3 separate regions of the Homo sapiens genome follow, and regions 1 and 3 are each reported to be linked to region 2. The links are microRNA targets in miRTarBase. Many come from high-throughput screens and were not tested one by one. Region 2 holds a microRNA gene; each other region holds the end of a gene's coding sequence.

What was found. The annotated mature microRNA hsa-miR-1322 reads GAUGAUGCUGCUGAUGCUG and lies in region 2 at 1,070-1,088, opposite strand. An mRNA with a match to its seed (bases 2 to 7 or 8) in the 3' UTR can be bound and repressed. Matches are read on the target gene's strand: a 7mer-m8 pairs with bases 2 to 8, a 7mer-A1 pairs with bases 2 to 7 and ends in A, and an 8mer does both.
Region 1: the mRNA of ZNF662 is a reported target of hsa-miR-1322. Seed matches in the 3' UTR shown: 7mer-m8 at 921-927.
Region 3: miRTarBase lists C11orf58 as a target of hsa-miR-1322. Seed matches in the 3' UTR shown: 7mer-m8 at 2,767-2,773.

What each region holds. Positions count from the first base shown.
Region 1 is chr3:42,914,620-42,917,878 of GRCh38, forward strand. ZNF662 (zinc finger protein 662) reads left to right here. Exons shown (of 5, transcript NM_207404.4): 5 at 1-3,259. The coding sequence ends at 735. Among named protein-coding and RNA genes, the nearest start is that of ZNF662, 10 kb to the left of the region's middle.
Region 2 is chr8:11,034,211-11,037,469 of GRCh38, forward strand. MIR598 (microRNA 598) reads right to left here and starts at 1,092; the gene lies at 996-1,092. All of the region lies in intron 1 of XKR6 (XK related 6), which reads right to left.
Region 3 is chr11:16,754,867-16,758,125 of GRCh38, reverse strand. It overlaps C11orf58 (chromosome 11 open reading frame 58), which reads right to left. Exons shown (of 5, transcript NM_014267.6): 5 at 1-3,255. The coding sequence ends at 3,022. Among named protein-coding and RNA genes, the nearest start is that of C11orf58, 18 kb to the right of the region's middle.

The sequences.
Region 1 (3,259 bases), not on the chromosome of region 2:
CACAAAATTCTAAATGAGCAAATATTCTATATATGTGAGGAATGCGGCAAGTGTTTTGATCAAAATGAGGACTTTGATCAACACCAGAAAACTCATAATGGAGAGAAGGTCTATGGATGTAAGGAATGTGGGAAGGCTTTCAGTTTTCGATCACATTGCATTGCACATCAGAGAATTCACAGTGGGGTGAAACCCTATGAATGTCAAGAATGTGCTAAGGCCTTTGTTTGGAAGTCAAACCTGATTCGTCACCAGAGAATACATACTGGAGAGAAACCCTTTGAATGTAAGGAATGTGGGAAGGGCTTTAGTCAGAACACAAGCCTTACGCAACATCAACGGATCCACACTGGTGAGAAACCATACACATGTAAGGAATGTGGGAAAAGCTTTACTCGAAACCCAGCCCTTCTTCGACATCAGAGAATGCACACTGGGGAGAAGCCTTACGAATGTAAGGACTGTGGGAAGGGCTTCATGTGGAACTCAGATCTTTCTCAGCACCAGAGGGTCCACACTGGGGACAAGCCTCATGAATGTACTGACTGTGGGAAAAGCTTCTTTTGCAAGGCACATCTTATTCGACATCAAAGAATCCATACTGGGGAAAGACCCTATAAATGTAATGACTGTGGGAAGGCCTTCAGTCAGAATTCTGTCTTAATTAAGCACCAGAGGCGCCATGCTAGAGACAAACCCTATAACTGTCAGATCTCTCACCTTCTTGAACATTAGAGAGTGCATAATGGTGATACTTGTTTATAATTCTTATGCTGCAGGAACCCTAGAGACAAAATGAGATGACCATTCACAATTTGCTGTAACCCTTAACTTAAATAGCCAGTATTATCTTGCCCTTTTGAACATTTACCATGTACTCTAGCAAGACTGGTCCCTCTGTTCTATGATGTTTTAACAAGGCATCATTTAGTTGGGCAGCTACTCTGTATCAGGTGCTAACCACTTTACATACATTAATTTGCATAACAATCCTATTAAGGTAGGTGCTCTTCTCCCCATTTTACAAATGAGAAATCTGAGTTGAAAGAGGTTATAAAACTCATTCAGGGTTGCTCAGTTAGTAAGTTATAGAGTTGAAATTGGAGCCAGGCCTATCTGACTGCAGAGTTTACTGTTCTTTACTTAATTGTACATATTTATGTCTCTGCCCATTTTTATTTGCTTATTTTCCTGTGCTTTTAGTTTCCCTTCATCACTCAGATCTAGCTCCTTCAACTAAGAAGATCTCTCTTCCTCTTCTACTTGTAATCAGTACCACCCAAGTTAGTATTTAATTATGTGCCATCTTATATTTTTCTAATAGTCTCATGTCTTTTAATCTTAACCCCAGCTAAATGACTCTGAGGACCAACAGTACATTTCTTTTATGTTTTTCAAATCCTGAAACATTAATCTTTGACTAGATATAACATGCTCATGATAAAAAAGAATTGAAATAGTTGAAAAGGGTGTTCAGTGAAAAGTAAATTTCCTTGTCATTCCTATCTCTTGAGTTCTCCCCAGAGGCAATCACTGCTACTGGTTGTGTATCTCTGTAGATACTCTTTGTATACAAGTGTTTATTAGTATTGCTTTTCATAATTCTGTCTCACTGAAAACCTTATTTGATGGAAGCAACATTGCAGTTAAATTGTGAACTCTAAGACCTTTTCTTCAGAAGTTGCTTTCCTTTTGAGGCCACCAAAGTAATTTAGGGAAACAGCAGAGGGTAATCCAGGTCTTTTTTTTTTTTTTTTTTTTTTTAGACAGAGTCTCACTCTGTTGCTCTGGCTGGAGTGCAGTGGTGCTATCTCAGCTCACTGCAAGCTCCACCTCCTGGGTTCATGCCATTCTTCTGCCTCAGCCTCCCAAGTAGCTGGGACTACAGGTGCCCGCCACCATGCCTGGCTAATATTTTTTATTTTTAGTAGAGACGGGGTTTCACCATGTTAGCCAGGCTGGTCTCGATCTCCTGACCTTGTGATCCACCTGTCTCGGCCTCCCAAAGTGCTGGGATTACAGGCCTCAGCTACCACGCCTGGCCAATCCAGGTCTTAAGAGACCTCATTGCCTTTGTTTTATGAGATATCATTCTGGGATTGGGAATATGTAAACTCAACTGGAGATTTTTTTTCATAAAAATTTATATAGTTCCAGCCCTCTCATTGCTTCCTATCCTAAATCCTCTTCCAGTCTGTCCATCCCTCACTACCATGATAGTCTACATTCTGATAAGCTGTGAGGCCACTGCCAAGGGAGGGAGAAATGGTCACTTTCTGGTGGTGGTTAATGCTTTGTTAGATAGCTTCATCCAGTCAATAGTTGAAAAGTTTTCACATAATCCAGTATTGGCATCAGAGCCAGAAATGCCCTCCCTAGGTCCAGGACCAAAGATAAAACAAACACGAGGAACATGTAGCGTCTACACAGGAAAGTAAAGAATTATAGAATTAACTAATTCTACTTGAAATCAGGAGTTTTATAAAACAACATTTTTAGACGTGGTCATCTTTTATTGGTTTCCATCATCTCTTCCCCTTCTCTCTGGGAACAGTTACCCGGGTATTCTTTGGGAAGCTATCCTTTCTCAGCTATGTGGTTTGGCACCACCACCATCTTCATGAGTGGACCCTGTTTGGCTTGTGTCAATCAGTTTATCCCATCCCCTTGGCCACAGAGCCATTGTGATATGAGGAGATACTGGCTCTTCTGGAAAAGAGAGGCTTTTCTTCATCGAGAGCTACCAGAGGAGATATTATCTGTCCTCTGTGTGGCACATAGGAAAATGTGAGACCTAGAATTATAGCAACTTTTTTTTTCTGTTAAAAGGGGAGATTCTCAAGCTTCCAGGTGCTACCATATGGAGCCTAAGGATAAAGCCAATACCAAAGAAAACAGTGACTAAACAGAGAGAAACTAGGTCCTTGGTGACATCTTTTGAGCCACTAGACCAAGCTTTACCTGAAGCAGAGCTACCTCAGAACTTTTCAGCTATGTGAGCCAATAAACATCTGTCAAACGAGTTAGAGTTGAGTTTTCTGTTATTTGCAACTTAGCCACACTAATACTGTTTTGTGTTTGAAATCACTGTTTTCTCATACAGCTCCTCAGTGTCACCTTTTCCTCTTGCTCAGTAGTCTCATAAGCTTCTCAGTTTTATCTCATCTCAGTTGCTTGGAAGTTGAGCATCTAAATAGGTGGCTTTTGCTGGGTGCAGTGGCTTACGCCTGTAATCCCATCACTTTGGGAGGCCAAGGTG
Region 2 (3,259 bases):
AACAGGAAAGGCTGCACAGTGTGGGAAATGAGAGGCTGGAGGATCTCAAAGATCCAGGAAGACGGCATGGAGGAGCCAGCACTTCAGCTGCAGCTTTGAAAGATGAGCACAGTTTAGCCAAACAAAATAACAAGAAGGGTGCCACAGGCCGAGAGAGCATCATGGGTAAAGGTACAAGGCAAAATGTCCAGGACATTTATGGGGAAGGGGAAGAAGCTGCATGTGTCTAGAGCTCCAGGTGAAATGTACCACATGAAGCACAAGGATGGGGGAGCCAGAGAATATGGGTACCTGAAGCTAGGCAGGTAAGATTGGCTTTTACTCTATGGGCAACAGAGAGCCATGGCAGGCTTTCCAGGAAGGGAGTGACATGCACCTTAGACAGGTCAGCCTGACAGCAGCTTAAAACTAGATGGAATGGGAGACAACTTTGTCCCTAAGCTCAGTCCCCTAAAGATACCAGCACATGACTGTCAGGCCCCTGCTGGGACAGCTGCCCCTCCCTAGGCCTGTCCATTCTCTTACCTCCCTCCTGCCTCTGATGGGGAAGGGGTGATGGGTTGGAAGTGGGTGTGTGCAACATTTACCATGGCCAGGTCTGCTCTGTGCTCTGTCCCCACCCAGCACACCCATCTCCATCCATACCGGCCAGCCTTGCCTGTTCCCTCACAGTGATGCATAAGCTGGGCTTCTCCTGCGGTGTGATACTAATGTACTAGCCAAACCCTGAGAGGCCACATATGGTGGGTGAGGGATGTGGGACTGCCAGACTGCCAGCCAGTGCCCTGAAGACTCTGCATTTCATATGCGTACACATTTAGTAGTAGTGTGACCCTGGGCCAGTTACTGATTCTTTCTGAGCTTCGGTTTCCTCATCTGTAAAATGGGGATGATGATACTTACCTTAAAGGGCTGCCATGAGGTCGAAAGACAAACTATGACAAACAGCCAGTCTCGTGCCCAGCCCAGCGTGGGTGCAAGCTATCTGGTGGCTGCTCGGATGATGATGATGACGATGACAACGATGACGTAGCACCCCATTTCCAGCTCACACCATCGGGATCACCGCCAGCATCAGCAGCATCATCAAGCCATCTTCCTGCGTTGTGGCAGCTTGGGCCCCCACTGGCCATGCAGGAGCCAGGAGATCAAATCATGAATGGGGCTCTTTGCACTTCAGGCAAAGTGCAACTCCAGGAAAGAGAGAAGATTAAGGCCAAATCTCTGCACCCAAACAGGATCCAAGAAGTGGGGTAATCTGGGACTCATCACATCTACATAAAGGGAGGAGGAAGCCCCAGGGTGGCCTGGGGAGGAACCCCAGTGGCCTAAGAGCAAGTTCTGCTCTGCAGCTGAACTTCAAGAACCCAGCTGCATCTCGAAGTTCTCGCTGAAGAATTTGGAGACCTGAAATATCCTGTTTTGCATGAATAAGCATTTCAAAGATATTGATTACAACAGCTCCTTACATGTGTACAGACAGTGGTGTGTCATTTCTCACACATTTTCAGATCCATCATCCCTGTGAGGAGGCAGGAAGGAGATTAGTGAGTTGATGTGATAGATGGGGAAACTGAGGAGAGGGAGGTAAGTGGTTTCCCTGAAATGCCACAGGTCTGATTTTTTTCCCTGAAAAAGGCAGGTCTGATTCTACCTACATCTAGGGCTCCCCTTTGTGTATCTGACCAGATGCATGTGAGAAATCTGAGTTGAGTTACCTGTGAAAGTCTTTTTTTTTTTTTTTTTTTTTTGAGGCAGGATCTTGCTCTGTCACCTAGGCAGGAGTGCAGTGGTGCAGTCACAACTCACTGCAGCCCTGACCTCCTGGGCTCAAGCAATCCTCCTGCCTCAGCCTCTTGAGTAACTGGGACCACAGATACCCACCACCATACCAGGCTAATTGTTTTTCTTAGTTTTTGTAGAGATGGGGTCTCACTGTGTTGCCTAGGTTGGTCTCTAACTCCTGGGCTCAAGTGATCCTCCTGCCTCAGTCTCCCAAAGTGCTAAGATCACAGGCATGAGCCATCACACCCAGCCTGGAAGTTCCTTCTTACCAGGCAGAGAGAGAAGCACTTCCAAGCTTGTAGGATTCTAGGAAAGTTTCTAATCCAATCTCTTCATGTCTCAGATGAGAGGTGGGAGACCTAGAGGAAGCCACTGTGCCCCTATTTAAAGTAAGAATAACCCCAAAGATATCTTCTCTGGTCAAAGAGTTTCCAAACCGTTGAATGTGAATCTTGCTACCGGCAGCATCAGCATCAATGGGAGCTTGTTAGGAATGCACATTCTTAGGCCCCACCCCAGACTTGCTACATCAGCATCTCTGGGTGGGGTCCAGGAATCTGCATTTTAACAAATTAGCCAGGTGGCTGCACAGTAAATTTTGAGAATTTAGCATGCTTAATCTGATGCATGCTAAGATCTGAACAACACTGCTCTCAAGAGTTGGGGGTGAGTGTTCTTTGGAGGGTTCAACAGAAGTTTAAGGCACATTTTCATTATGTTGACGTAACTGTGTTTTTAAACCACAATTTGAAAACAGCCCTTGAACCCTAAGTTATATACCAAATTTTAACAACTGGGAGGCCACCTTGGGCCACAGACTTAGGTCACGCTTTCATGTCCGAACTCCCTGGAAGGTGGCTGCGTGTGTTATTCTGTGAGCACAGGGTGGGGCGTGCCCCATCCTAGGCAGTGCACACTGGCTTGAGCTAGAACCGCTCTGGCGAGCTCTCTCAGTTAGCTCTCCCCTGCTTGAGAAGCCCCCTAGATCGGGTATGAAAGCCAGCTGAAAACGTCGGTGCCCTCTGCAGGTTTTTGTATTTATTATGATCCTACTTATACTTATGACGAGGCGTGGATATCATTTAGTGATGCTACGTGACACAGAAATAACACAACACTTCTCAAATTTCTGCATCTGTTTCACCCAACAATTATAAGTTGAGCTGTTAAAAAAACTTTTTACCATCCACAACCACCACTTATGTGATTACATGAGTTGATCAAGAATTTTAATACTTTTTTCTTTTTTTAAGACAGGGTCTCACTCTCACCCAGGCTGGAGTGTGGTGGTACAATCTCGGCTCACTGCAACCTTCACCTCCCGGGCTCAAGCCGTCCTCCTGCCTAGGCCTCCTGAGTAGCTGAGACTACAGGTGCACATCACCACGACTGGCTAATCTTTGTATTTTTGTAGAGACTGGGCTGTGCCATGTTGTCCAGGCTGGTCTCCAATTCCTGGGATCTAGCGATCCAC
Region 3 (3,259 bases), not on the chromosome of region 2:
TATAAAGGAGGAGGAGTTGGTTAGAAGTGAATACTTTTATTGAGTGATTTTAGAAGTTGTTTTCGGATATTCCAAGTATTTAGGATGTGGCTGTGGTGGAAACAAGTAATGGAACCAAAGCCCTGTGTGTAAGTAGTCACTGAAGCTAACCAGGTAGCTGAAATTTATTTCCCCCAAATTTACTGAAAGAATGTGACCTTTGTGCTCTCAAACTGTGGTTCAGGCACTCCAGAATTTTTTTCTGTACCTTCAATTCTCTCAGATTTAAAAAATTATACTAGAGAAGAGGACTTTTGCCTATGAATACAAACAACATTGCAATCTGCATCTGCAAACATTCTTTTCAATAGACGGTTAGGTCATGGATACAAGTAAACACTTGGATATAAGGCAAACATTTAAAAGTGCATTTCAGGTATTAAGTCATGAATGATATGGAAAAGTTGCCACTAAACTTTCCACTGAATAGTGTTTCACAGCACAAAAATAATCTATTTTCCTGATACTTTTTTAGTATGGATACCAAGACAGCATGACATCAGTTGTCTAATTTTTTTCCAATTTGATTTAAAAAACCCACATGTTCAGGCTTAAAAGATAGCATTATGTTTAATGGGTGCTAGGAAACCAGGCCACATGGACCAACAGACCTAAATTTACTCTAACCCTGAATTTTGTTAGCACCCAATAAATGAATTAATTGAAATCTGGATTTCTCTATACGGAGATGAAGAAAGTCTTTTAGTGTAGTTATTTTAAAACAAGTTGCTCCTATTTCCTTATCAGAAACAAGACCATATCAACAACCCAACATTTAAATAATGAACTGAAAATACTTTTAAAAACCATAAAACTCATCTCTATCCCATTCTTAAGTAAAAATCAGTCTTCACTTTCTACTTAGTTATAAGCAATCCCACAGACATTTGAAAATCAGTGGGCAAACTAAAATTGTTGAATAAAGCCAAACTTTTTCAAACCAAGTATTTGTTAAATGTCATATGTATTGTCTACTATAAAGTGATTCAATATTTTACTATAGAGGATAGCATCTATTTTTCAAAAATGTGAGAAATTAAAAAAATAACAAGGCAACAACTTTGGGGTCTGATACATGAAATAAATATACTGCAAGATAGAGTCTATCAACCAGAAATCACCTGTTCTACTTGTTAAATTTCTCTAACACATTCTAAATTTTTTTTTTTTTTTTTTTTGAGATGGAGTTTTGCTCTTGTTGCCCAGGCTGGAGTGCAATGGGGTGATCTTGGCTCACTGCAACCTCCGCTTCCTGGGTTCAAGTGATTCTCCTGCCTCAGCCTCCTGAGTAGCTGGGATTACAGGCATGCACCACCACGCCCAGCTAATTTTGTATTTTTAGTAGAGATGGGGTTTCTCCATGTTGGTCAGGCTGGTCTCAAACTCCTGACTTCAGGTGATCCAGCCACCTCGGCCTCCCAAAGTGCTGGGATTATAGGTGTGAGCCACCGCACATGGCAACACGTTCTACATTTCAAAGTGACATAAGAATAATTTTTAAAAATTCCAACACTCCAAGGCTGGGCGTGGTGGCTCACGCCTGTAATCCCAGCACTTTGGGAGGCCAAGGTGGGTGGATCACGAGGTCAGGAGATCGAGACGATCCTGGCTAACACCGTGAAACCCCAACTCTACTAAAAATACAAAAAATTAGCCAGGAGTAGTGGCACATGACTGTAGTCCCAACTACTTGGGAGGCTGAGGCAGGAGAATCGCTTGAACCTGGGAGGCAGAGGTTGCAGTTAGCTGAGATCGCGCCACTGCACTCCAGCCTGGGCGACAGAATGAGACTCCGTCTCAAAAAAAAAAAAAAAAAAAAAAAATCCAACACTCCAAATACATCCTTTAAGTATGTAGATGTATAATAGCTCAGCTCACAAACAGGTGTGACTAAAGCCTTTGAACTTGTTACTTATAAACATTAAGAATTTGGACCCCATTATCCAAAGATCCATTTACTAGCTCATAATGCAATTTGTGTTAATCAGCTATACAAATCAACCACCTAATAGCAGTCAGATGATTCTAATCTCACACCAACAGAAACAGCAATAAAATTAGAAAGTAATACTTTTTAGTAATTAATCAATAAAATAGCACTGGGATAAAATGAAGAGAATTTCTTGTTTCAGCTTCTTATCAGTAAGCCTGTTCCTCATTTGTAGATAATGAGGATAAAGGTATCACAGCCAAATATGGGAAACTGCTCTTTATTTAGACCTTTGGGACAAAATTAACTTTGGTCACATATTACTTAAAAAAAAATCCAGTTTTACATATTTCTAAATAGACAGAACTAAATGATCAGAGAATTTCTTCTGTAAAAATTGGCCAAATTTTATCAAAAATCTAACATACGATACAATCCAAATTATAAAAAGACTACTTGGGATCATAATATTCCAAATGTATGACAGTTATAACTCCATCTTAACAAGTGTGAAAAGTACTTGCTCTCATGTTGCTTTGGTCCAAAAGAGTAGAGCTAACTCAGTAACAGGAAACTAAGTACCCAATCTTTTGCCAAAATTAATTTAGATTGTGACTGGCAGCAGAAATATCCATAATGAACAGCTCTACTATAACAAAGAATAATTAAAGAATACTTTTCGTGAACATATCACAGTATCAAATACATTTTTATAAGAGAAAAATATGAAGGAAATGATAAAATAGCTATCACAAACAAAAAGAAGCATTTCCCCCATAAGGTGAATTAGAGGGTTGATGATGCTAATATGAAAGGAAGTTGAGTACTGTATTTATTTCTTATTTTATACAACTCTTACTCTTTACAAAAATGGTTATAGTCATGCCCATAAAAGTGTAACCCATGGCATTTGAAAGCAAACACTCTTTGTAATTATTTAAAAGGGCCTTTTTAAAAATTATAATACAAAGGTCTGTGCTCTATAAGCAGTCCTCCACTGTGCATTGTAACAATAAGGCTTACTTTTAATACAAAGACTAAGCGTTTGGGAGTTATGAACCACTGGATTTAACAAACATCATTTTATAATTGCTTTTTGCATCTTTTTTGTTTTTGGGATCCTCCACTTCATCAGGGTGCTCAGCAGCTTGGAGTTCTTCAGCAGATTCTTCTTTCTCTGACTCTGAATCGCTTTCAGAATCATCTGGACTTTCAGGATCAGGTGAATCATCATCGTCATCATCATCATCTCCAGCCACATCACCTTCTCCATCATGGTCTTCTACCTAA